Linked DNA regions of Homo sapiens. The protein of the gene in region 3 interacts with the protein of the main gene of each other region in a pairwise test. Each region holds a gene or a part of one and is shown on either strand. Other genes may lie near its edges.

Region 1 (7,027 bases), on a different chromosome or scaffold from region 3:
TTGTTTGTGATATTGTATGCAGACTCAGGGATTTGCTGGAAAGAATTTAAGTGGTGGCATTATTTTTTCAAAGAGTGTTTCTGAGTTACGTTGACCATCTTTCAAGGACATTTTTCACAAGCTCCAAATTAAGTAGTGTTGTAGTGGCTGTTGCAATTTACAATGGAGAAAAAGGATAATTTGCAGCATATAGTTAACAAGTTATTCTTAAATCCAAATTACCAAATGTCCATGCCTCATTTGAAAATAAGGCATAACTCAACATTAATAATGAATCTTTGCGTGTGCTATCTTATTTATATAAAAACAGTGCATGTCCCTGCAGTGCTTGTTTGCTCTACCAAAAGAAAGGTTTTTCACTGCGCCCAGAAGGTCAACAAACTTGGGCCCAGTTGGTGCCTAGTGGGGAGGGACTTTGTTGACACATCAGGGCACAGAGGTGGCAGAGCATTTTCTCTCTTGGTGACACCGGTGGTGTGAGGGATCCGCCCGCTCTTCTCCCCTTCCTGCATGTCAGGCTGCGGCCATGGCAGACCACTCACTCCTTGAGGCTTACTTGAGGACCACTCACTCCTGAGCCATCTGGTTTGAAATTCCCTTTCCTCTGAGTGTACATCAGTGAGATGAATCAGAATAATTTATACATGTTGAAGGATATTTTTAAAAGATTATTATTGGAGTTAGGGATTTAGGATAACTGGGAAAATTAACATTTTGACCTAAGCTGGTGTTCTTTTCTTACATGGTATTTTCACACGGGTCTTCTGAGAAAGCAGCATTTTCTAAGTTTCTTGTTAAGTCCTGATTTTTCTGTTGTTGTTGTTGACACAAGATCTCACTCTGTCACCCAGGCTGGAGTGCAATGGTGCGATCTCAGCTCACTGCAACCCCTGCCTCTCAGACTCAAGCAATTCTCCTGTCTCAGCCTCCCGAGTGGCTGGGACCACAGGTACACGCCACTGCGCCCAGCTTAATTTTTGTATTTTTAGTATAGACGGGGTTTCATCGTGTTGCCCAGGCTGGTCTCAAACTCCTGAGCTCAGGTGATCTGCCTTCCTTGGCCTCCCAAAGTGCTGGAATTACAGGCATGAGCCACCAGGCCCGGCCAAGTCCTAACTTTTGGAAAACGCTTATTTCGAGTGATATTTTCCTGGCATGGGGCGTTTTTACAATCACAGCTAATGTTTATTGAGTTCTTACTTGGGTTGTCTCCCTTATTCCCCATGACAACCCATGAGGTCAGTAGTGTCATTATTTCCATTCTGAAGTCAGGAGAGGTTAAGGAACCTGCTCAAGATCCCACAGTGAGTAAGTGGCAGAGCTGAGACTTTAAACTCAGGTCATCCAATTTTCTTAACCACCATTCTGTTTTTATGTCTCAAAGTTAGCATTGCGTGTTGCAGAAACTGAGCTCTTTGGCTCTAATATTTAGATTATTCGAGTCTTGGAATCTGAATATTGGATGACTAATTCATCACCGACCATTATACATTTGTTGGCTTAATAGTGGGACCAGATTTGTTGTTTGGCTCAAGAGATAGAAATGGTGTAATTAAACAACAACAACAAAACCCCTGGGGTGTCTAAAAGGATCTCTGTAGGACCACATGTAAGGAGTTCCACGTAGTTATGTGTCATTAATTGGAATTCACAATAAAGCAGATTAACAAATTAAAATGGAATGTATTTTAATTTCTTTTTAATTTCTAATTTAATTTCTAATTGCATCACCTCAGAGAAGTGATCTAGATGCTTCAACCACAGAGGGTGTTGACACAGTGAAGGCTGCTTTTCCTTGTTATTTCTTCCCATGAGCTGGGGCTTAGAGATTGTTAAGAAAAGGAGCTTGAAACAATGAGGAGGAGGATGGGGAATGAGCCGAGGGCATTCATAAGACCAGGCGGCAGCTGCTCCCTGTTTCCCTGGCCTTCTGTTCTCAGACCTTTGCTAAGAAAAAGTGAATTATAGAAATCGAGCAGCTTGGTTTTCTTATGCCTGTTTGGTCTGTGGACAAGAGAAGTAGAAAATTTTAATAGAAGCAGCTGTAGCTTCTTTTGTTTGGCCTCTAGGAGATTACTGGTTAAGGGCCAGTGGAACTGCTTTTCTCTGTATATGGAAACTTACATGCTTTTTTGAATGTAGATTTTCAAAAACTTGTACTTTCAAGAAGTTATTTGATAGGCACAGTTTTGATTGAGTCATAGGACACTAGGAGAGTGGAAATTTAGGTATAAGAGTGATGGCACAGACGATGCCATTAGATGGCTGCTGTCTTCGTGACTGTGTTATTTTCTGGCGAAGTTATATTGGAAAAATGCTTGGAAATTGACAGCAGGCTTTGTGATCTTCCAGAGTGTCTCCTCTGACTCTGCCTTCATGTCCCTACAAGGTGCAAGTAGTGAGTGTTTGAAGAGGCAAGATATTTCTTGCATCTGAAACTTTGTTTGAATAGCAAAGTTACTTTTGGGCAGATTTTTATGTTTCGCCGATTCATTTCTAGTGGCTACAAAAGGTCTGTCAGCCACCTTCCCCACCCGCTGATGCTTATATCTCCCTATAAAAATCTCCCTTGGCCGGGCGCCATGGCTCACGCCTGTAATCCCAGCACTTTGGGAGCCCGAGGCGGGTGGATCGCCTGAGGTCAGCGGAGTTGAGACCAGCCTGGCTGTCATGGTGAAGCCTTGTTTTTACTAAAAATACAAAAATTAGCTGGGCATGGTGGCAGGTGCCTGTAATCCCAGCTACTTGGGAAGCTGAGGCAGGAGAATCACTTGAACCCAGGAGGCGGAGGTTGCAGTGAGCAGAGATTGTGCCATTGCACTCCAGCCAGGCAACAGAGCGAGACTCCCTCTCAAAAATAAAAATAAAAATAAAAATAAAAAATCTCCCTTGAAGAAAAATTAACCATTGCTTTCCATGAGCTAATATCTGAAAGTATCAAGGCAGAGTCTGAAGTACAGATATTATTATGCTGTTGATTTAAGCATTCAGCAAATATTAAGTGCTTACCTCGTGCTGAGCTCAGTGTACACTCCAAAAAACCTTGTCCACTGACCTAGGCAAACCTCACTTGGATCGTACTAGTGCGAGTCAAACTTCACAATCAGCAAATACTGAAACTACAGTACCTAAGAACTCAGAACTTGTGAACTTTATAGAATCGATGCAGTTACTGCCTGAATCAGCATTGTTCAATAGAGCTTTTACTATGATGGAAATGTCCCATATTTGCCCTGTCCAATAAGATAGTCAGTAGCTACATGTGGCTGCTAAGCATGTGAAATGTGGCTAGTGAGATTTAAGAACTGAATTTTAAATTTTATTTAATTTCGATAATTTAAATAGCTTCAGGCCGCTAGTAACTACTATATTAGGGCAACTTTACAGCAAAAGTGCTTTTTTAATAGATGGCATTATCTGTCCTGGGCTGTCATTTCTCACTCTCTCTCTATTTATTTTTTTTGAGACAGGGTCTCACTCTGTCGCCAAGGCTGGAGTGCAGTGGCAAGATCTCGGCTCACTGCAACCTCTGCCTCGGGCTCAAGCGATTCTCCTGCCTCAGCCTCCAGAGGAGCTGGGACTGCAGGTGTGCACCAATCATGCCTGGCTGTTTCGTATTTTTAGTAGATACGGGGTTTCGCCATGTTAGCCAGGCTGGTCTCAAACTCCTGACCTCAGGTGATCTGTCCCCCTCAGCCTCCCAAATTGCTGGGATTACAGGTGTGAGCCACTGGGCCCAGCTGGCTGCAGTTGACTTTTTGTTGCAAGCTGTAGGTGGTTCCCTAATTTCTAGCCCTCTTTGAATCTGCCTAGTATCACAGTGAATAATCAGGTGGGCAGTGCTATATATCAAAGCTAAGGTGTTTTGGGGACACCTGCAGAGCTGTCTTGGAGGCCCAGTTGATTTTCATTGTAGATGAAATTGACAGGAAAAATGTCTGAATAGCATCTGTATTGGCAAGGATTGTGCTGAGTTTTAAAGATAGGTAAGTGAAGGTGCCCGTGTCCAGTGGTTAGAAATAAGGAACATTCTAATAAGGCAGTGGAACAGAGGAAAAAGGTCTTACTCTTTATCCCCAAATACTCTGTAGTGACAAGTCTGGAAGGTAGACAGTCACATTCGCAGGCTCCAGGATTTCTTCAGAGTTAGCCATGTAGGAGTAGTCTTGAGGATAGCAGTGTGAAATTCTCATGGTTAGACCTCTGTTGAAATACATTTTAATTTTGAGTTTTGTAATTTGTGGTGGAACCACAGTATCAAGGCATAACAATACAAAAGCGTGGGGATAGGAAGAGGAGAAAGAATGACATCTATTTAGTATTTATTATGGGCTAGGTACTATGTGAAACATAGTATGTGTGAGTGTGTACATGCATGCATCTGTATGTATTTATATATTCTTTTTTTTTTTTTTTTTTTGAGATGGAGTTTCGCTCTTGTCACCCAGGCCGGGGGTGCAATGGCGTGATCTCGGCTCACTGCAACCCCCGCCTCCCGGGTTCAAGTGATTCTCCTCCCTCCACCTCCCGAGTAGCTGAGATTACAGGCACGTGCCACCACACCCAGCTAATTTTTGTATTTTTAATAGAGACGGGTTTCACCATTTTGGCCCAGGATGATCTGAATCTCTTGACGTCATGATTCGCCTGCCTCGGCCTCCCAGAGTGCTGGGAGCCACCGCACCTGGCCTATATATCCTTTATAGTATTGAAAGGTAGGTGGTGTCTCCATTTTCAGAGGGTGAAATTGAGGCTCATGGAGATTAAATGGGATCCTTTTTTTAAACAACTTTATTGAGATATTCACATACTATACGATTCACCCATTTAAAGTGTACACTCATTGATTTTTAGTATGTTCATGGAGTTGTGCACCCATCACCATAGTCAATTTTAGAGCATATTCATCACTTCAAAAACAGCCCAGGCCAGGCACAGTGGCTCACACCTGTAATCTCAGCACTTTGGGAAGCCAAGGTAGGAGGATCTCTTGAGCTCAGGAGTTTGAGACCAGTCTGGGCAACATAGAGTGAGACCCCTTTAATAGCAAAAAAATTTAAAAATTAGCTGAGCATGGTGATGTGTGCCTGTAATCGCAGCCACTCAGGAGGCTGAGGCAGGAGGATTGCTTGAGCCCAGGAGGTTGAGGCTGCATGCAGTGTGTCGTGATTGCATCGCTGTGCTCTAGTCTGAGTGACAGAATGAGACCCTGTCTCAAAAGAAAACAAAAAAACCCCAAAAATTCCAGACCCATGAGTTGCCACCTCTCCCCATTGCTCCTATCCCTCATCACAGGCAACCACTAATCTATTTTCTGAGTCTGGATTTTGCTGTTCTGCACATATCATGTAAATGAAACAATACAAAATGTGGCCTTTTGTAGCTGGCTTTTTCCTCATGTTTTCAGTGCTCATCCATGAAGTAGCATGTGTTAGTACTTCATTCCTTGTTATTGCTGAATAGTATGCCATTGACTAGATGGGTCACATTTTATTTATCCGTTCATCAGTTGATGGGTTGTTTCCACTTTTGACAGTTAGGAATAATGCCATTCTGAACACAAGCATACAAGTTTTGTAGCCATTCTAGTGGGTGTGAGGTGGTATCTCATTGTGGTTTTGCTTTTCGTTTCTCTAATGACTAATGATGATGAATATATTTTCACGTGCTTATTGGCTCGTATTCGTCCATTTTCACACTGCTGATAAAGACGTTCCTGAGACTGGGCAATTTGCAAAAGAAAGAGGTTTAATGGAATTACAGTTCCACATGGCTGGGGAGGCCTCACAATCATGGTGGAAGGCAAGAAGGATCAAGTCATGTCTTACATGTATGGCAGCAGGCAAAGAGACAGCTTGTGTGGGCAAACTCCCATTTTTAAAGCCATCAGATCTCTTGAGACTTATTACAATCAAGAGAACAGCATTGGAAAGACTCACCCCGGTAATTCAATTACCTTCCACCGGCTTCCTCACACGACACATGGGAATTGTGGGAGTTCCGATTCAAGATGAGTTTTGGGTGGGGACAAAGCCAAACCATATCATTGGCCATCTGTATATTTTCTTTGGAGAAGTGTCTATTCAGATCCTTTGACCGTTTTTAAATTATATTATTTGTCTATTTACTCTTACATTTTAAGCATTGTTTTTATATTCTGGGTTGAAGTCTCCTATCAGATATATGCTTTGCAAATAGCTTCTCTCATTCTGTGGGTTGTCTTTTCTGTTTCTTCTTCCTGACCTTTGAAATAAGTGAAGTTCTTTATCTTAAACAGAGCACCAGAGGGCTTAGCACAGTTCTAGGCCCTCACGTATTTTCCAAAGTGAGTTAACAAAACTTTCAGTATGATGACTTGTGTAACAAATATTGTTTTTTAAATATCTGGTTGGAAGAAGGATGGAGATTTAACCTTTGCCTGAGCTATTTGAGAGGGACCACAAAGCTCTGCAGACTTGAGACTCTTATGTATACTGAAAGGAAATTTTGGAAGCCAGTTCTCTGGAGACTTTTATGTATAGAAAATAGTCTTCTCCTCCTGGATTAGACAGAGAATTGCTTGAAAGGAGGACACCCTACCTAGAAGACCCTTCTTGATCTTTTTAGATACTGTAATGTCATGATCTAAATAGTGTTTCCCAAACTTGTCTGTCAAGAATTACCTGGTTTCAGATTTCTAGGGCTGCCTGAAGATTCTGGTACAGTGGTTCTGAAGGAGCAGTCTTCCTAATCACCCCATGCAAGTCTTAAGATCGGAATGTTTGGGAAACTGATCTCACCTGGTAATAATGATGACCTTAGTGGTTGCCCCTAGAACCTAATTAGTTCTCTTTAGTGGGTGTGGTCTCCAGTTGACAAACATCCCTCGCCAGGGAGATTACAAGGAGCTGATCAAGCCAGTCTGGCTACATTGCTTACCTCAGCACTGGGTCTTGATCCAAGACAACCCAAGTCCCCAACCCCCCACCCCCTGCCAGTGTGGTAGAGATGTGTCATAAAAATTTAAGCCAGGCTCACAGACATTTTC
Region 2 (7,027 bases), on a different chromosome or scaffold from region 3:
CCTTGTCTTACGGTGCTGAAAAAATGACCTCTTAATGGCTGGGCATGGTGGGTCACACCTCTAATCCCAGCACTCTGGGAAGCTGAGGCAGGAGGATTTCTTGAGCCCAGGAGTTTGAGACCAGCCTTGGCATCTTGTCGAAAACCCATCTCTACAAAAAATAAAAAAATTAGCTGAGCATGGCGGTGTGGGCCTGTGGTCCCAGCTACTAAGGAGACTGAGGTGGGAAGATCACGTATCAGTGAGCTGTGATTGTGCCTCTGCACTCCAACCTAGGTGACAGGAGCGAGAGACCCTGTCTCAAAAAAAAAAAAAAAAAAAAAAAGATCTTGGCCGGGTGCAGCGGCCCACGCCTATAATCGCAGCACTTTGGGAGGCTGAGGCAGGCGGATCATGAGGTCAGGAGTTTGAGACCAGCCTGACCAACGTGGTGAAACCCCATCTCTACTAAAAATATAAAAATTAGCTGGGCATGGCTGGGCGCGGTGGCTCACACCTGTAATCCCAGCACTTTGGGAGGCCGAGGCTGGCAGATCACAAGGTCAGGAGATGGAGACCATCCTGGCTAGCATAGTGAAACCCTGTCTCTACTAAAAATACAAAAAAAATTAGCTGGGCGTGGTGGTGAGCGCCTGTAGTCCCAGCTACTCCGGAGGCTGAGGCAGGAGAATGGCGTGAACTCGGGAGGTGGAGCTTGCAGTTAGCCGAGATCGCGCCACTGCATTCCAGCCTGGGCGACAGAGCAAGACTCCATCTCAAAAAAAAAAAAAAAAAAAAAATTAGCTGTGCATGGTGGTGCATGCCTGTAATCCCAGCTACTCAGAAGGATGAGGCAGGAGAATTGCTTGAACCTGGGACGCGGAGACTGCCGTGAGCCGAGATCATGCCACTGTACTTCAGCCTGGGCAACAAAGTGAGACTCTGTCTCAAAAAAAAAAAAAAAAGATCTTTTGGTCAGTTCTAATATTCTGTGTGTATCCAGTGGGTGAATAGAGGCCAGAATCCTTGAAACCTAAATCCCTTTCAGGAAAGTATAAAATATCTGGCGGTTTGAATATTTGGACACTTGACTCTTTCACTTGAAAAGTGAAAAATACTGTGAAATGCTATTTACAGTTGGCCCTTGAACAATATGGGTTTGATTGGTGGGGGTCCACTTTTATGCAGCTTTTTTTTTCCCAACCAAACATGGATGGAAAATATGGTATTTGCAGGATGCAAAACCCGGGTCTATGAAGTGTTGAGTTTTACTTTTTGTATATATGGGTTCCACGGGGCTGACTTTAGGACTTGAGCATGTACAGATTTGGTTATATATGCAGGTGGTCCAGGAATCAATCCCTCATGTATACTGAGGGACAACTGTACTTCCTTTTTATTTGGCTAAAAGTCTTTTACTTGATTATCTTTTGCCCGATGATTGATATCCTCCAGTGTGTAGAGTCCGTACTTTCCTATATTGCTGTTTGGATCAGTTTGGTTTTTCTTGATTCTCTTTGTTTAAAAGCTGTCTTTTTTTTTTTTTTTTTGAGATGATTTCGCTCTGTCTCCCAGGCTGGATGGAGTCCAGTGGCGCGATCTCGGCTCACTGCAAGCTCCGCCTCCCGGGTTCACGCCACTCTCCTGCCTCAGCCTCCTGAGTAGCTGGGACTACAGGCACCCGCCAGCACACCCGGCTAATTTTTTGTATTTTTATAGAGACGGGGTTTCACCGTGTTAACCAGGATGGTCTCGATCTCCTGATCTCGTGATCCGCCCACCTCGGCCTCCCAAAGTGCTGGGATTACAGGCGTGAGCCACTGCGCCTGGCCAAAAGCTTTCTTGTTTTTTGAGACAGGGTCTTAGTCTGTCACCCAGGCTGGAGTACAGTGGCACAACCATGGTTTACTGCAGTCTTAAGCCCCTGGGCTCAGGTGATTCTCCCACCTCAGCCTCCTGAGTAGCTGTAACTACAGATGTGCACCACCACACCCAGCTAGTTTTTATAGAAACTGGGTTTTGCTATGTTGCCCAGGCTGGCCTCAGACTCCTGGACTCAAGCAATCTGCCCACCTTAGCCTCCCAAAGTGCTAGGATTACAGGCATGAGCTACCACGCCCAGTCAAAATCTTACTATACAAGTAATAGCAAAGGGTATTTTTCCCCTCTGTGAATCTGCTATACATGAATCTCTTATCTGATTTTTATGGTCTCCATTTCTTTTACTTTCTCTTTATAGGCTAATAAATAAGTTAGATGCTTAGCATCAGACTTGCTTGTAGTAGAGCTCTTGGGAAAGCACTATACCTTTCTCTTAAATTATTTCAAGCTTTCTTCACCCTCAGTAAGTCTGGGGCTGGCAGGCTAGTAGGGGCTGGCAGGCTAGTAGTAATGTCTATCTTCAATCTCTTTCAAAAACATACCTACCTAGGAAACACATTGCTCTTTTGTGATTTTGTAAGTTATCTTTCACTTTCTATTCAAAGTAAGAAAGCATTTTCCTTTGCAAGGCAGGTTTTCTTTAGAAAATCCAATATTCATCCTAGCTTACCTAAGAGTCTAGTTTTTAAAATAGGGACCTGCAGCCAAGAGGCTAGAATGTTAAAATAACAAGGTCTTTGTAGCTATTGAGTATGAGATATAGGATAGCTATAACTTTTTCGTTAAATTCACTGTTCTCACCTCTACTGGACTGTTTTTAGGTAGCATCACGCAGATTGCCATCTCAGAAGAGAGCATGGAAGAGGCAGGGCTGGAATGGAACTCAGCTCTCACCGCTGCTGTCACCATGGCCACGGAGGAGGGTGTAAAGAAAGACTCAGAGGAAATTTCAGGTATTCTTCTATAGGGCTCAGATGTCTTGCAGGGTCTTGTGAGCCTTATCACCATTATCATTATGGACACGGAAGACCTCTTAATTACTTTCGCTGGATTTTCTCATGCACGTAAATACTAACTATAGCTACAAACATCCTACTTTAATCCATGCAATAGCCCTGCATAGTCACATTTTACATACAAAGAAATCAGAATTGGCCGGGCGCAGTGGCTGACGTCTGTAATTCCAGCACTTTGGGAGGCCAAGGCAGGTGGATCACAAGGTCAGGAGATCGAGACCATCCTGGCTAACACAGTGAAACCCCGTCTCTACTAAAAATACAAAAAAAAAATTAGCCGGGCGTGGTAGCAGGCGCCTGTAGTCCCAGCTACTCGGGAGCTTGCAGTGAGCCGAGATCGCGCCACTGCACTCCAGCCTGGGCGACTAAGCAAGACTCCATCTCAAAAAACAAAAAACAAAAAACAAGAAATCAGAATTTAGAAAGGTTCAGCAACTTGCCTAAGACCAGTCACAAACAAGTGTCAGAGCTGAATTTAGCTGTTTGACTATGTAGTCTATGCTTTTCTTCTGATCAGACTGCCTCCAACTTTGGCACATTTCTTAGATAGACTAAGTTTTGAGATATTAGAAGGAAAAAATAGGTGGCAAGTGTTGTAGAGCATGGTGATTAATGATGATTCACTTAGAGGGGACCAGGAGAGGCTTCACATCACCCTCCAATTATTTATTCATTTAATAGGTATTTATTATTGCCTATTTTTAGTTGGCACTGTTGTTAGATGCTGGGTGCGTAGATGAAAAGACAGACCAGGTGCGGTGGCTCATGCCTGTAATCCTAGCACTTTGGGAGGCCAAGGTGGATGGATCACCTGAGGTCGGGAGTTCGAGGCCAGCCTGACCAACATGGAGAAACCCCGTCTCTACTAAAAATACAAAATTAGCCTGGTGTGCTAGTGCATGCCTGTAATCCCAGCTACTCGGAGGCTGAGACAGGAGAAGCACTTGAACCTGGGAGGTGGAGGTTGCAGTGAGCTGATATCACGCCATTGCACTCCAGCCTGGGCAACAAGAACGAAACTCTGTTCTCAGAAAAAAAATAAAAATAAAAAAATAAAAAAAGAAAAGACATAGCCACCACCCTCAGAGAGCTTATAGCCCCATCTATCCAACTGTTTTGTTTTGTTTTCTTAAGTATAGGACTAGAGAGAGTATATCTTAATTAATATTTCATTTCTTTACTATTTAACTTTTATGATATTAAATATCTCGTTTTTAAATTAAATTAAAATTAAATAATATGTAATGTTAAATATGTTTAATGTTTAATATTTTTATTGGAGGAAAATGACTATTCTTTGTAGTGAGAACTATGACAAATTGAGAGAATGACAAATTGAGGCAATCATCCCAAGCACCTATGCTGCTGAAGGGGCGACATAATTGGGTGCCCACTCAGGGAAGCATCTAGTATTCCAAAGCTTATTCCCTTTTTTCAGGAATGGCCCAATAAGAAATCATTTTGAGTTAAAATAATTTTGAATTTAACGTTGTAGAGATTTGCCTAAGTATCTAGGTAGTGTCTCTTTTTTACCCTCTGTCTTATCCTTCTTGTGCCAGAGGACACTTTGATGTTCTGGAAAGGAATAGCTGATGTAGGGCTGATGGAAGAGGTTGTCTGCAATATACAGAAGGAAATAGAGGAGCTACTCAGGGGAGTTCAGCAGCGGCTCATCCAGGCTCCCTTCCAAGTCACAGGTAAGTGCACTAATCCTAACAGTAGCAGTGATTTATTGAATACTCACCTCCGTAGGCAGGTCCTGTAAGCCTTGCAAAAACCCTGATGTATAGGTATTATTATCTTAATTTTACAGATAAGGAAACTAAGGCTCATATAAGTTAAGTCACTTGTCTAAGGTTCATAACTAGGTTTTGAACTCAGATCTGGCCATGCTTTTCCACAGGTAATTTTTGTCTTTATAAATGGTGCCAGTAGTCTGGGCAACATAGTGAGATGCTTTGTCTCCACAAAAAAAATTTTTTTTTTTTTTTGAGACGGAGTCTCGCTCTATCGCCTAGACTGGAGTGTAGTAGCGCAATCTCAGCTCACTGCAACCTCCGCCTCCTGGGTTTTAAGCAATTCTCTCTGCCTCAGCCTCCTGAGTAGCTGGGATTACAGGCGCCCACCACCACATCCGGCTAATTTTTGTATTTTTAGTAGAGACAGGGTTTTGCCATGTTGGCCAGGCTGGTCATGAACTCCTGACCTCAGGTGATCCCCCCGCCTCGGCCTCCCAAAGTGCTGGGATTACAGGCATGAGCCACCGCTCCCAGCCTACAAAAAACTTTCTAAACATTAGTCAGGTATGGTTGGTAGTGGGTGCCTGTAGTCCCAGCTACTTGGGAAGCTGAGGCATAGGAGAATCACTTGAGCCCAGCAGTTTGATGCTGCAGTGAGCTATGATCATAGGACTCTACTCCAGCCTGGGTGACAGAGCAAGACCTTGTCTCAAAAAAAAAAAAAAAAAAAACACAGGCCAGGTGCGGTAGCTCACGCCTGTAATCCCAGTACATTAGGAGGCCGAGACCGGCGGATTACTTGAGGTCAGGAGTTCGAGACCAGCCTGGCCAACATGGTGAAAACCTGTCTCCACTAAAAATATGAAAAAAAAAAAATTAGCTGGGTATGGTGCACATCTGTAATCCCAGCTACTTGAGAGGTTGTGGCACGAGAATTGCTGAACCCAAGAGGTGGAGGTTTGCAGTGAGCCAAGGTTATGCCACTGCCCACCAGTCTGGGTGATAGAGAACAAGACTCCATCTAAAAAAAAAACTGACAGAAAGCATCCTCTCTCGCGCGATATATGTATTTTCTTTTTTTTTTTTTTTTTTTCCTGAGACGGAGTTTCACTCAGTCACCCAGGCTGGAGTGCAGTGGCGTGATCTCAGCTAACTGCAACCTCCACCTCCTGAGTTCAAGCGATTCTCCTGCCTTAGACTCCTGAGTAGCTGGGATTACAGGCGCATGCCACCACACCCAGCTAATTTTTTGTATTTTTAGTAGAGATGAGGTTTCACCATGTTGGCCAGGCTGGTCTCAAACTCCTGACCTTGGGTGATCCGCCCGCCTCGGCCTCCCAAAGTGCTGGGATTATAGGCATGAGCCACCGCGCCCAGCCGATACATCTATTTTCAGACTCTCTGTATACATTCATTATGTGGTATGTCCACTATGTGTATGTATAGAGAAAGAGTCTGAAAATTGGAGAAATCCACTTGTTTTTAGATTATTCTCATATTCGGCCGGGCGCGGTGGCTCACGCCTGTAATCCCAGCACTTTGGGAGGCCAAGGCAGGCGGATCACGAGGTCAGGAGATCGAGACCATCCTGGTTAACACGGTGAAACCCCGTCTCTACTAAAAATACAGAAAATTAGCCGGGCGCGGTGGCGGACGCCTGTAGTCTCAGCTACTTGAGAGGCTGAGGCAGGAGAATGGCATGAACCCGGGAGGCAGAACATGCAGTGAGCCGAGATAGCGCCACTGCAGTCTGGCCCAAGCGGAAGAGCGAGAGACTCCATCTCAAAAATAAATAAATAAATAAATAAATAAATAAAGATTATTCTCATATCCTATTAATTTAAGGCTTTCTGAACTTGTTGTGTTCACTTATAGCTGTTTCTGAATACTTTCAGGGTGCTGCTGTGCAGAATGTAAAATGACGTTCTAATCTAATAGAAATGGGGTTATGGGCCAGGCGTTGTGGCTCACGCCTGTAATCCCAGCACTTTGGGAGGCTAAGGCAGGTGGATCACCTGAGATCAGGAAGTCAAGACCAGCCTGGCCAGCATGGTGAAACCCTGTCTCTACAAAAATACAAAAATCCGCGAGGCATGATGGCGGGTGCCTGTAATCCCAGCTACTCAGGAGGCTGAGGTGGGAGAATCGCTTGAACCCGGCAGGTGGAGGTGGCAGTGAGTGGAGATCACACCATTGCGCTCCAGCCTGGGTGACAGAGCGAGAGTCCGTCTCAAAAAAAAAAAAAATGGGATTATGATGAGATGAGACCTTGTGTATTCAGTGAATTCTTATTTATTTATTTATTTATTTAGAGACGGAGTCTCACTCTGTTGCCCAGGCTGGAGTGCAGTGGCGTGATCTTGGCTCACTGCAACCTCCACCTCCCAAGTTCAAGTGATTCTCCTGTCTCAG
Region 3 (7,027 bases):
GCTGTAGGAATCTAGGTGTGTCACGGATAGGTAGGAAACTAGATCCTACTGTGGATCCACTCCCTTCTTGAAATGCTTTGCTTTCTTGGTTTTCCAGGTATTAAATCTCTATTCTTCATCCTCTCCTTGACTGACAGTATCCTTACTCACACTTCAGCTGCCTCATCTTAGCAGTAATTAATAATCACTCATGGATCCATGAACTAAGGAGCTGGAGATAGCCTCAGAACAGCTCATTCAGAGGTGTATTTCCAGTAAAATTGACCTTTTAGCCCTGATAATCATATACCAAAACCTGCAATCATGTTGTTTTGGTCCATTGTAGACTCTTAACTCATTCCAGAGGAAAGTTTATAATACTTAGAGCCTTATAGTCATAAAAATCAACATAGATATACCTATTTCTTTTTCAGAAATGTATGACATGGAGATCAATAAGAGGTTTTCAATCATAAAGATACTATACCTTGTATTACAATAAAATTCTGTGAGGAAGTAGAATAGAAATGAGTTTCAAAAATAAAAGATAAATAATATAAATTTTTTAATCTAAGAGCTTGTTCTTGTATTTTTTTCAAATGGATAATGTAGACACTCAAATTCCATTGATATATTTAAGAGTGATTTGACTTATATTAAGAGTTGTATTATAAAATATTAATATTTATAATTTAAAAGAAATTACATTCTTTGCAGCTATTTAGGATAAAAAGTTTAAATATCAAATAAATGTATGCCAGGGGTCATTTGCTTTTAAGATTCTTCCAGCAAATTATTAAGCAAAAAGAGCATGCCTTGCTTTTTCATGGTAAAGAGAAGAAGGGAGCGGGGAGAGGGGAAACTTTACTTCATACCATTTGATCCTCATATTTTTTTGCATCTTAAGAAGAGAACAAATGATCCTACCAATATTGAACTATTTTTCTCTCTTTGATTAGATATGGTCCGGCTTGCTTTCACAGATGTTTCGATAAAAAATTTTGAAGAGTTTTTTAACCTCCACAGAACCGCCAAGGTAAAACCAACCATGTGTTGTTTAAAAAAAAAAAAGAAAAGAAATTAAGCTTGACACTAGAAAATAGATTTCTTGGATGAGGATTATTTCAACTTTATTGTATACTTTTAGAACAGCAAATAACATCACTCACTAGTGCTTCTTCTGATGTTACCGGTGATGTCTGGTTAAAAGCAATAAAGGAGGGAGTGCTTAAACGCACAGAACAAGAGATCCACAGTTAGCGGAGAAGATTATCACATCTAAGGGCAATGGCTCCAAATCCAGAAACTCACTGAGGAAACTACATATAAAAATAGAATATTTCTGGCCCGAGTGGGCATGATGAGCCTGTAATCCCAGCACTTTGGGAGGCTGAGGCCGGTAGATGACTTAAAGCCAGGAGTTTGAGACCAGCCTGGCCCACATGGCAAAACCCCATCTCTACTAAAAATACAAAAAAGTAGCTGGACGTGGTGGTGCATGCCTGTAATCCCAGCTACTTGGGAGGCTGACACTTTAGAATTGATTGAGCCCAGGAGGTGGAAGTTGCAGTGAGCCAACATTGCATCACTGCACTCTAGCCTAGGCGATGGAGCGAGACCCCGTCTCAAAAAAAAAAAAAAAAACAAACAAAAAAACTTTCCATCCAGAGTGAGGAAAGAGCCTACAGGAAATGAGCCTGGGGGACAGACTGGGCCAAGAGACCAGACTTAGCCACTCTTAGAAATAGGTGTCCCCGGCACAGATGAGGAGCCTGGCCCCATGATTCACCAGCTGGAGGCCTTGGGATGTGCCACTTCCAGCCTGTGCCCCTGACTCCTCATTCATAAAAGAAGACTGATAAGGCCTTCCTCAGAAGGTTGAGATGGACGTGGAGTAAGATGTTTAGGATGCACCTGCCACTGTGCACTGTGCCTCTCCTCAAGGCCTGGAGGGTCCAGGGGTGAAGTTTCTCCTCCTCAGGTTTTGGCAACCAGTTTCTCTAAACCCCGGGAACATAAAACATAATTTTCTGACTTAAACATGGCTTTCCTGCTCATCCCTGTGGATTATCTGATGGATATGACAATCCTCGCCATCAGATATAGAAGCCCCTAAAAGAGAAAGGAAAGAAGCTGAGTTACGGGGCCTGAAAGCAAGCCTGTGCAGGTCCCCAGGCCCCGGGATGGGGGTCCGGCCCATCTGTGGCTCAAGCCTCCTGGGAAGCTCTGACCCTCAGCCAGGGCTAGAAACCTGCCTTAGATACACCAGGGCGCGGCCCAGAGGGCTGTTCCAGGAAACGTGCTGTTTCACTCACGTTGGGTAACCTGGTATTTACGGACTTCTTACCTACTTTCCTGTGACTCAGGAATTTGTGTCTTGAGGGAAACTGTATTTATTTATTTTTTACTGTAGTCCAAAATTGAAGACATTAGAGCAGAACAAGAGAGAGAAGGTGAGAAGCTGATCCGCCTCCACTTCCAGATGGAACAGATTGTCTACTGCCAGGACCAGGTATACAGGGGTGCATTGCAGAAGGTCAGAGAGAAGGAGCTGGAAGAAGAAAAGAAGAAGAAATCCTGGGATTTTGGGGCTTTCCAGTCCAGCTCGGCAACAGACTCTTCCATGGAGGAGATCTTTCAGCACCTGATGGCCTATCACCAGGTACGTCTTCGCGTGGTTCAGGATGCCAGCTTCCATTCTTTCCTTTTCTTCTGAACGCCTCTCTCTTTAGTCTTGCTCTCTCTGTAGGTGACGTTGGTCAGCTCTGTCGTTTACCTCCTTGTTAGCCTCCTGTATTAGTCCATTTTCATGCTGCTGATAAAGACATACCTGAGACTGGGCAATTTACAAAAGAAAGAGGTTTAACGGACTTACAGTTCCACATGGCTGGGGAGGCCTTCTACCATCACGGCAGAAGGCAATGGGCACTTCTTACCTGGCGGCGGTGGCAAGAGAGAGAATGAGAGCCAAGTGAAAGGGGTTTCCCCTTATCAAACCATCAGATCTCATGAGAGTTACTCACTACCATGAGAACAGTATTGGAGAAACTGCCCCCATGATTCAGTTATCTCCCCCTGAGTCCCTCCCACAACAGGTGGGAATTATGGGAGTACAATTCAAGATGAGATTTGGGTGGGGACACAGAGCCAAACCATATCGCCTTCGTAGAAGCAGCTCAACCTCAGACAGAGAGATGGTGGCTTAGAGCCAGTGACATCTGGTTTTGATGGCTGTCTAGCTCTGGCCAAGTTACTTAACCTCTCTGAGCCTCAGCTTTCTTTGTAAAATGGTGTCTCCTCATAGATTCTAGTGCATATTCCAGGAGACGAGTGTGGATGATGATAATGGATTGCTAATGGAAAAACCAAACTCTGTTAAAATATTTGAAAGAGGTTTATTCTGAGCCAAATATGAGGGACCATGGCTCTGGGAACAGTCTCAGGAGGTCCTGAGGAAGTGTGCCTGAGGCTGTCAGGATGCAGTTTGATTTTATACATTTCAGAGAGGCAGGAATTGTAGGTAAAATCATAAATCAATACATGGGAGGTGTACTTGCCCTCCCTAAAGAGGCAGGACACCTTGAAGGAGGGGGAGCTTACCGGTCATAGGTGGGTTCAGAGATTTTCTGGTTGACGATTGCTTGAAAGAGTTAAACTTTGTCTACAAACTTGACATCAATAGAAAGAAATGCCTGAGTTAAGGCAGTGTTAGAGGCCAAAGGTATGTAGATGAAGACTCTGGGTAGCAGCCTTCAGAGAGAATAAATGGTAAATGTTTCTTTTCAGGCCTTAGAGGCAGCAGGCTCTCAGTTAATCTCTCCTAGATTCAGGGAAGGCCTAGAAGGGGAGAGGTCTGACTGCATTAATGGAGATTCTCTACAGGTGCAAATTCCCCCCCCACAAAACATGGCAGGGCCATTTCAATCTGTTGGTCCTGTTACAGCCGTTTCAAAATATGTCCACAAAATATATTTTTAGGTAAAATATTTGTATTTCCTTTAGGGTCTGCAATCTGTCTTGTGATGCTATACCAGAGTCGGGTTGGAAAGTAAGCCATTTTATACTGAGTTCATGGAAACTCATCCAAGGAGATTTCATGGTTTGTGGGGTGTGTGTGACTTAACCCCTGCCTCACATGACTTTATAATATGGTATCTTACTACTCCAGAGTCTTTTTGGCCAACCTTATGATCTCAATTTCAACCTAAACTCCAAAAGGGCCTGGCTTCTCTTCCTGTTACGGCCAGGAATTCAGATTTTCAGGTTTCTCTGGGGTCCACTTGGCCAAGAGGGGGTCTGTTGAGTTGGCTGGAAGGCATAGGATTTTATTTCTGGTTTACAACAATTTCCTTAGTGCAGCATTGGAATGCAATGGTAGCAGACTAAATGGAAGCTATCGCGTAGACACATGCTTTGGTTGATACTGCACGATTCAGTTAACCTGAAGTACAATCTAATTCATCCTAGGGAAGGAGGCAGTGAACACAGACACAACTCAGGTAGAGCCCTTGGGATGTGTAAACACCTGAGGAGGTAAAGCAAATTGTAATCTCTCGGTTTATCAGATGTCCCCATTGCCTTACTATTTGGATGCTTTAAAGCAGGGCCTCTCAAACTCCACCCAGCACAGAGGCCTCCTGGGATCTTGTGGAAATGCAGATGCTGATTGCAGGTCAGGATGAAGCTGAGATTCTGCCTTTCTTTTTTTTTTTTTTTTGAAACCGAGTCTCACTCCATTACCCAGGCTGGAGTGCAGTGGCACAATCTCAGCTCACTGCAACCTCTACATCCTGGGTTCAAGCAATTCACCTGCCTCAGCCTCCCAAGTAGCTGGGATTACAGGCTTACCTTGCCACCATGCCTAGCTATTTTTTCTATTTTTAGTAGAGATGGACTTTTACCATGTTGGCCAGGCTGGTCTTGAACTCCTGACCTCAAGTGATCTGCCTGCCTCGGCCTCCCAAAGTGCTGGGATTACAGGCGTGAGCCACCATGCCTGGCCTCTGCATTTCTAACGGGCTCTCAGGGGTCACCATACTACTGGATAGAGGCCACACTTGGAGGAGCAAGGCTCTAAACCGAGGGTCAACATCCATTCCTCCAGACACTGGGAGCTGCATGCACGTGAGTGAAGCCAGTTAAGGGGAAGACAGGCATGCACATCAGCTTCTCCTGCAGCCAAGCTCACACCTGTCCGCTGCTTCCACTGCCTCCTAGAATGAACAGTTACCTTGAGAGTAGGTGAGGCATATACATGCACAGAATCCAAACAATAGGATGAGTGACAATGGCAGAGGAGTCTCCGAGCCAAGCAGCTCCCTGGACAGAAGCAGCCCTTCTCCGGGTTCATTTCTGTCCTCCGAGGCTGACTCATGCACTCAAAAGCTCCCATGCATATACATTTTATAATGGTTTTTACACAAAGGTTAGCAGAGGAGTGGACGTGCTGCTCTGTACCCTGCCTCTTTTGCTGTACCTGGGAGATTGTTCTGCCTCAGTTCTGATGGGGCTGCCTTGTTCTTTTCAATGGCTGCTGAGTATCCCATTTTATGGATGTGGTATATTGAGCCAGCTCCCTTTAAGCGAACAGTTTGTTTGCAGTCTTTTGCTAATGCAGGTGTGTTGCTGTGAATAGGTTTGTTTGTATATCATGTATCTGGAAGCATCAATTCCTAGAAATGAGATTCCTGGTATATTAGGATTGTGCAGGGAAACAGAACCACAGATATATGTATGTAAAGAAGTATATTTCAGCCAGGCATGGTGGCTCATGCCTGTAATCCCGGCACTCTGGAAGGCTGAGGTGGGTGGATCTCTTGAGGCCAGGAGTTTGAGACCAGCCTGGCCAACATGGCGAAACCCGGTCTCTACTAAAAATACAAAAAAATTAGCTGTGCATGGTGGCCCATGCCTATAGTCCCAGCTACTTGGGAAGCTGAGATATGAGAATTGCTCGAACCTGGGAGGCAGAGGTTGCAGTGAGCCAAGATCACACCACTGCACTCCAGCCTGGGTGACAGAGCGAGACTCCATCTCAAAACAAACAAACAAACAAAAAACAAAACAAAACAAAAAACAGAAGGAAAGAAAGAAATATATGTATATTTCAAGGAATTGGCTTCTGCCATTTTGGGAGCTGGCAAGTCCAAAATCCCAGGGCAGGCCAGCAGGAAGAGCAGGCCAGAAATTGCAGCAGGAGCTAAGGCTGAGTCCACAGGCGGAATTTCTTCTTTTTAGGGAAACCTCATTTTTCTTCTTAAGACCCTCAACTGATTGGATGAGGCCCATCCACATCATTGAGAATGGTCTCCTTCACTTAAAGTCAGTGGGTTACACATGTTACCCACATCTACAGAATACCTCCGCAGCAATACCTAGATTCGTGTTTGATGGAATCACTGGGGACTCGAGCCTAGCCAAGCTAACACATGAAACACACCATCACAGCTGGGGAAAGGATGGCTTATTTTAGACTGATAAAGATGACCCAGAGAAGGCCTGCTCCATCCACACTGGCCGCTTTAGTCTGCACTAAAGTTGTTGGTTTTTTTTGTTTGTTTGGTTTTTTTTTGGTGACAGAGTCTCACTCTGTCGCCCAGGCTGGAGTGCAGTGGCGCAGTCTCAGCTCACTGCAACCTCTGCATCCTGAGATCAAGCGATTCTCCTGCCTCAGCCTCCTGAGTAGCTGGGACTACAGGCACGTGCCACCACACTCGGCTAATTTTTGTTTTTTCAGTAGAGACGGGGTTTCACCATATTGGCCAGGCTGGTCTTGAACGCCTGACCATGTGATCCATCCGCCTCAGTCTACCAAAGTGCTGGGTTTACAGGCGTGAGCCACCACGCCCGGCCTTGTTGGGGTTTTTTGACAGCCTAATAGGTGAAAATGACATCTCATTACAATCTTAATTGGCATTCTCTTATGACAACAAGCTGGTACATCTTTTTGTGTGTTGAGGGTTATTTCTATTTCTTGCTCAGCAAACAGTTCATCCAGGAAGAGCTTCTTGGTGAGATAGTAGACCTCTGCGATTTCTGTTGCAGACGA
Region 4 (7,027 bases), on a different chromosome or scaffold from region 3:
AGTAGTTTCCGCTGAGAAAGTGTCATCCTTAAATGCTGGAACATGGAAAACTGGCTACATTATGTATCTTGCCTCCTCACATTTTTATCTGAGGCCTGACCTTATGTCCCCTTCGTTTCCTATGAAAAGGCCCTTCGAACAGGCAGTTCTCCAATTGAACTTTAAAACAATCCAGTTAATATAGTTTCATTACTCTAGCTTCTCTTACTTTGACCAAATCCATTCTTTATTTCACTTCTCAGAGAAGTGAAGAAATGCTTTTTTATGTTTCTTTTCTTAATCTAATAAATCATTCTTGGTAATGCTTCATTTTCCCATTTAGGCCTACCTGTATGTACATTGTATTTTATCTGATTGTGCAAATAAGTCTTTTTAATGTAACTCTTATGAAAGTCTCCCTTGTTAATCAAATTCATCTTTTCTTTCACAAAAGTTCCATGCTTCAGTATTGTCCACAGCTACCTGAAGGAATTAGTAATGTGTCATTTAAGTGTCCTTCAGTATTTCTAAATACCCTTATAATAATGAAGGTAAAATTAAATTTAAATAAATGATCAATTAGATTAACTTTGTAAGCATCTGACTTAATTGGATGAGAACATTTCCAAAATATTTAATATGTAATTTTAAAATTCCTGAAGGACTTATGAAATTGCTTGTTCTTAAAACATTTAAAGAACTTTACCTTGGCTGGGCGCGGTGGCTCACGCCTGTAATCCCAGCACTTTGGGAGGCCGAGGTGGGTGGATCACGAGGTCAAGAGTTCAAGACCAGCCTGGCCAAGATAGTGAAAACCCATCTCTACTAAAAATACAAAAATTAGCCAGGCTCGGTGGCAGGCGCCTGTAATCTCAGCTACTCGGGAGGCTGAGGCAGGAGAATCGCTTGAACCCGGGAGGCGGAGGTTGCAGTGAACCAATATCGTGCCACTGCACTCCAGCCTGGGCAACAGAGCAAGACTCTATCTCAAAAAAAAAAAAAAAAATCCTTTTACCTTACAGTGCATTTTATAGCATTGTCATCTTCAAAGTCAAAATGGACATATAAACTCAAATGCCAAAAAAGGTTGTAAAAATTCAATAAAAAATACAATATCTAGAACATTTAAATTATAGCAATTCTTATTAGTGAAGGTCTTAATAATCATAAAAGTTTTATGACCAGTGGACAAATGATAAATGTCTCCCTATTTTCACCTAGCCTTTAAGAAAGCCTTGGTGGTGGTGACAGCTGTCATATGGTCAACTGATGTAAGGAGTGTACCTGCTTTTACAGTTACATAAATTTGAACAAATTCATGTCGCCCCCCCCAAAAAATGCAAAAGACATTGTGCTCTAAAGATATTTAACATCCCTATACAGTTAATCATTTCTGTTTAAATTACAATGCAATAGATTTTACCGCTTCACCAATCCAGTTGGTAGGATTTTGTGGTCTTCAAATGTTTGATGTGATCTGTCTTCTCTGCATCTTGCTTTACTTGTGTATGTTGTAACCATGATTGAACCTATCCCTCTAACTTAATGTTGGTTTCTACCCTGTCTCAGTGTTGTCAGTCCTGTTGGCATTTTAGAAATTCTCATTAATTTTGAAAATATTTTTTGTATTGGAGGTATTTTATATACTTCCCCAAATGACAACTTTAATTCATGACTGAAATCTAATTAAGCCTAGTATACTTCCTGCAGTATCAACCCCACTGTATTTACAAAGAGAATGAGGAGGTGACAAGACACTTTTTATTTCTTGCTGCCCTTCCAGTCAGCCCTTGGATCACTGCGCATTTCCATCTGGAAGGTTGCTTCTCCTCAGTGATTTCGCATTACAGGAGGGTTTTCCTTCTTTGTTTCTCAGACCTGGTCCTGTAGACGGGAAGGAGCCTGGACACAGTGACACATTCTCAAAGGCCCTGCAGGACCACCATGGCTTATGATGACTCCGTGAAGAAAGAAGGTATGACCCCATAATCTGAGAAGCATTCCAAAGGGGGTATCCTCTTCAATCCTTGCAGCCCATGGATATAGAGACCAGGACTGGGCACCACAGCCTGGACTCCCAAGTGATGGTCCAGAGCACTGTTATGACACTCAGCCTCCACGCCATCCCCAGACTGGGCCCATGGAAACGAAAACCAGGACAGGGGTTCCAACACGAGAGTCTGAAATATGAGTCTCTTAGTTTATTGGGGTGATCCCCTGCAGCACTCTTGGTCCTTGCCAGCTCCAGTGTGCAGGAGTCTGGGGATAGGAATCACATCCTGGACTCCCACAGAGAGCAGCACAGCACATGAATCCTTATTCTTTTCAGCCTTTCGTCTGCAAGTCTGTGTCCTCCTACCAAATCACAACTCAGAAACCATATCTGAGGTTGCACATGGGGCCTTTGCATAGCATGGAAACATTGTTTCTTCAGGTTTGATTCTTGTATTTGCAGCTAGGTCATCAAGAAATATTCTGTTCCCCTGGGTCTAGCCCTGTATTTCAGTGGACTTGATTGAAACATTGTTTTAATTTGGAAATAGAGGAACTGTTGCATTACCTGCATGACGATTTGGTCATTACTTACTTGACTTTCTCATTTCCTTTCCCAAATAAACCTGTGCTTCTCAGATTGTTTTGATGGTGATCATACCTTTGAGGACATAGGACTTGCAGCTGGCCGAAGCCAACGAGAGAAAAAACGTTCTTACAAAGATTTTTTAAGGGAAGAGGAAGAAATTGCTGCTCAGGTCAGGAATTCTTCCAAGAAGAAGTTGAAGGTAAGTCCTGAAAATTTAAATTAGGAAAGTCTTAAACTACTCATTTTTTTTTGGTGATGCAGAGTTTTTTTTTGTTTTTTTTTTTTTTCTCTCATGGCCCAGGCTTGAATGCAATGGCACAATCTCTGCTCACTGCAACCTTCGACTCCCAGGTTCAAGCGTTTCTCTTGCCTCAGCCTCCCGAGTAGCTGGAATTACAGGCGCGGGCCACCACGCCTGGCCAATTTTTGTATTTTATCAGAGACAGGGTTTCACCATGTTGGCCAGGCAGGTCTCAAACTCCTGACCTCAAATGATTCACCTGCCTCCGCCTCCCAAAGTGCTGGGATTACAGGCCTGGGCCACTGCGCCAGGAAAGTCTTAAACTACTTCTTACCATATTTCCTAATATTTGAAGAAGGAAGTATTTTTTAATAACTTGAGAAAAGAAAAATAAAACGTTATGCACATCTATTTTTATTATTTCTTGTGCTTTGTTTCCCAAAATCAAAAATCATCAAAGACAAGAGTGGTTACAAACTGCATTTGCCTCATCATCTTATTATTGGTCAATTCTTCTTTAATTATAGGATAGTGAACTTTACTTCTTGGGGACGGACACACACAAGAAGAAGAGGAAGCACTCCTCTGATGATTACTACTATGGAGGTGAGGATGGGAATGGGCAACAGGTGGGATAAACACATCGCTGGTTCTTGGAGTCGGGGTAGGGGAAAGGGATCCAGATGTTGCTGACTCAGTGGCCTATTTAACAGGACAGTGGTTCTTGTTCTGAGTGCCGATAAACCAGTGTGAAGGAGGAGAGAGGTGGAGGGCTGGTATTTTGGAGGATTCAGCATAGAAGAACAGTCTGCATTTGTGATACACCAGGTACCAGGTTCCTTCTCCCCCCAATCATCCACTTATCTTGTGCCCATTGTTATCTAGCATCCCTTTTGCCATACGTAGTCCTCTGGCCTGCACCTGTGGGTCACTTCTCAACCAGTATATATCCACTCACAGAACCAGTTTTCTTAGCTATGTTATGCACATAGCTGATGAGACTCAACTTTCACCAGAATGGGTTTGTCCTGAACACAGAAACAAATGATACTCTGTCTGCAATCTGAATTGTTAACTTCCCATAATCCCACAGCTATAGTCAGTTCTTCTGGGTATGTGCTCTTTGGTTGCTTCTGAAGACTCAATGAAGAGAAACAACTTTAGTGGCAAGAACTGTGTCCAGGGTCAGAGGCAGACTCTACCAAGCCAAGAAGCACAAGGGCATCATTTCTCAATGTTAGGAATCAGTTAAAGGGTCTCCCTTCAAATCATTCCTGTTAGCCTCTTTCTCATGTTAGCTAGGTGCTTTTGATGAGAGAGGAAACTTGTTAGAAGTTGCTTCCCATCATATTGACAGTACTTCTCTTGATTATTTCTAGATATTTCGTCTTTGGAATCGTCACAGAAGAAAAAGAAAAAGTCCAGCCCACAGTCTACTGATACAGCTATGGACCTGTTGAAAGCTATCACTTCCCCACTGGCAGCAGGCTCCAAGCCCTCCAAAAAGACTGGGGAGAAATCCTCTGGCTCTTCAAGCCATTCGGAGAGTAAAAAGGAGCACCACAGGAAGAAAGTCAGTGGAAGCAGTGGGGAACTACCCCTAGAGGATGGTGGCTCCCACAAATCGAAAAAAATGAAACCTCTCTATGTGAACACAGAGACACTGACCCTTCGGGAGCCTGATGGTTTAAAAATGAAACTTATTCTGTCACCAAAGGAGAAGGGAAGCAGCTCTGTTGATGAGGAGTCTTTTCAATATCCCTCCCAACAAGCGACTGTGAAAAAATCCTCAAAGAAATCAGCTCGGGATGAGCAGGGTGCTTTACTCCTAGGACATGAGTTACAGAGCTTTCTGAAAACAGCCCGGAAAAAGCACAAGTCATCCTCAGACGCACATTCATCTCCTGGCCCTGAAGGCTGTGGGTCTGACGCCTCCCAGTTCGCAGAGTCCCACAGTGCTAACCTTGATCTTTCAGGGCTTGAACCTATTCTGGTAGAATCAGACTCATCCTCTGGTGGGGAACTAGAGGCTGGGGAGTTAGTGATAGATGATTCTTACCGAGAAATCAAGAAGAAAAAGAAGTCAAAGAAGAGCAAAAAGAAGAAAGACAAGGAGAAGCATAAAGAGAAGCGACACTCCAAGTCCAAGAGAAGTTTAGGACTTTCTGCCGTGCCAGTGGGAGAGGTCACAGTGACATCTGGCCCTCCTCCCAGCATCCCATACGCTGGAGCAGCAGCACCTCCCCTGCCACTTCCTGGCCTCCACACAGATGGGCATAGTGAAAAAAAAAAGAAAAAAGAAGAGAAGGACAAAGAGAGAGAGAGAGGAGAAAAGGTAAAGCATCTTTTAAGTGTGGTGGGGGTAAGAGATTAAGCAGGTTCTTCCTGGGTAGTCAGTGGACTTTTAAGTTAAGCAGTTGAGGTAAACCACTGGGAATTAAGCATGTTTGGGGGATATGTTGGAATGATATAAAGTATAAAATATTACCAGTAGCCCAGTCTGTCTGATATAGAAGCAATCTTTTTTTTTTTTTTTGAGATGGAGTCTCGCTCTGTCGCCCAGGCTGGAGTGCAGTGGTGCAGTCTGGGCTCACTGCAACCTCCTCCTCCCAGGTTCAAGCCTCACCCTCCCAAGTAGCTGAAATTACAGGCACCCGCCACCACACCCGACTAATTTTTTTTTTTTTTTTTTGTATTTTTAATAGAGACGAGGTTTCACCATGTTGGCCAGGCTGGTCTCAAACTCCTGACCTCAAGTGATCCACCCACCTCAGCCTCCCAAAGTGCTAGGATTACAGGCATGAGCCACCATGCCCGGCCTAGGGTTTCTTAATAGAGTTATTCTCCCATTGTGCCAGGAATAGGTTTAGTTACACTGTGGCTTTTTCCAGCTAGTTCTTAGAATTCACAGAAGGAGCTAAACCCAATTTCTTTCACTTAGCATCACTGTCTGCTTAGGGCAGTTGGGAGATGTCAAAAGGTGTTCTTTGAGTTCATTTTTAAAAACAGACTATCAAAATTGGTAGAACAATGAGCAGTCAAGTTAACAGAATAGCTAATGACTTTCCACCAGCTGGTGTTGGCTACTTTCTGGTATTCTTTTTAGTGTCGAATATATGTTCTTTTACTGTCTGAGTGCTTGCTGTATGCCAAGCTCAATGCTGTAGATAGTACCAGGAAGTAAAAACACAAGCAGGACATAGTTGTTGACTTTAGGGAGCTCACTGTTGATTAGGGAGATAGGAATGATAAATCAGTCACCTTGGTTTGATTTCTTTCCTCATAACAGTTTCTGGCAGTGAACTTTAGGGTCTCATAACTATGTCATTAAAAGTTTCTTTTTTTATTTATAGTTCTGCAAAATGCAATGTCAGATAAAATCTGGAAGAAAAGCGACTAAGAACGAGAAAATCAAATGTATTAAGAATCTGGGGCTGGGTGTGGTGGCTCATGCCTGTAATCCCAGCACTTTGGGAGGCTGAGGCAGGTGGATCCCTTGAGCCCAAGAGTTCGGGACCGGCCTGGGCAACATAGCGAAACCCAGTCTCTACAAAAAAATACAAAAATTTGCCTGGTGTGGGGGTGCACATCTATAGTCCCAGCTACTCAGGAGATTGAGGTGAGAGGATTGCTTAAGCCCAAGAGGTGGAGGCTACAGTGAGCTATAATCTTGCCACTGCAACTTCAGCCTGGACAGCAGAGTGAGGCTCCCTGTCTCAAAAGAAAAAAGAAAAGAATCTAGGAATGGGAATTTAGTTTGATCTCTGAGGTGGAAGTTATTTCTCCACTATAAAGGGTGCCTTTTAAGAAAGTCTGCTTATATCTATCTGTTTATATCTATCTGTAGATCTATATCTGTTTATCAGTATGTGTGTGTGTATATATAATATATATAAAATAATATATTATATATATATACACACACACATCTGTTTATCTCAAAAAAACCACAAAGCTGTACCTCTGAGCCAGGAATCAGTGTGAACATAAAGACCTGGATATTCCAATACTAAGTCAGGTTTTATTCAGTTGTTTATTTGGAAAATTGCTTTATGAAATAAACACTATGTGTTCTTTATAAGATTCTGTTTATCCTAAGAATTTCCAGTCTAGTGACGTGATAATGCCATGGACTAATCATCCAGTGCTGAATGTCGGAGCACAGGGTCAGGGAAAGCTTGAAGAAGGAGAAGGTTTCAGTGGAAGTGGACGCATGGAGGCAGAGA

The links.
Region 1: the proteins of MX1 (region 3) and PSD3 interact in a two-hybrid assay, tested with the Homo sapiens proteins (one study listed by BioGRID).
Region 2: the proteins of MX1 (region 3) and GMEB1 interact in a two-hybrid assay, tested with the Homo sapiens proteins (one study listed by BioGRID).
Region 4: the proteins of MX1 (region 3) and HMGXB4 interact in a two-hybrid assay, tested with the Homo sapiens proteins (one study listed by BioGRID).

The regions. Positions count from the first base shown.
Region 1 is NC_000008.11:19,003,688-19,010,714, reverse strand, and holds part of PSD3 (PH and SEC7 domain-containing protein 3), read left to right. Parts: intron 1-3,841; exon of another isoform or gene 3,842-7,027. UniProt on the Homo sapiens protein: Guanine nucleotide exchange factor for ARF6.
Region 2 is NC_000001.11:28,699,757-28,706,783, forward strand, and holds part of GMEB1 (glucocorticoid modulatory element-binding protein 1), read left to right. Parts: intron 1-2,681; coding exon 2,682-2,813; intron 2,814-4,435; coding exon 4,436-4,573; intron 4,574-7,027. UniProt on the Homo sapiens protein: Trans-acting factor that binds to glucocorticoid modulatory elements (GME) present in the TAT (tyrosine aminotransferase) promoter and increases sensitivity to low concentrations of glucocorticoids. Also binds to the transferrin receptor promoter.
Region 3 is NC_000021.9:41,450,229-41,457,255, forward strand, and holds part of MX1 (interferon-induced GTP-binding protein Mx1), read left to right. Parts: intron 1-938; coding exon 939-1,015; intron 1,016-2,392; coding exon 2,393-2,641; intron 2,642-7,027.
Region 4 is NC_000022.11:35,260,468-35,267,494, forward strand, and holds part of HMGXB4 (HMG domain-containing protein 4), read left to right. Parts: exon of another isoform or gene 1-1,058; intron 1,059-1,855; 5' UTR 1,856-1,923; coding exon 1,924-1,954; intron 1,955-2,610; coding exon 2,611-2,759; intron 2,760-3,328; coding exon 3,329-3,407; intron 3,408-3,514; exon of another isoform or gene 3,515-3,629; intron 3,630-4,180; coding exon 4,181-5,136; intron 5,137-7,027. UniProt on the Homo sapiens protein: Negatively regulates Wnt/beta-catenin signaling during development.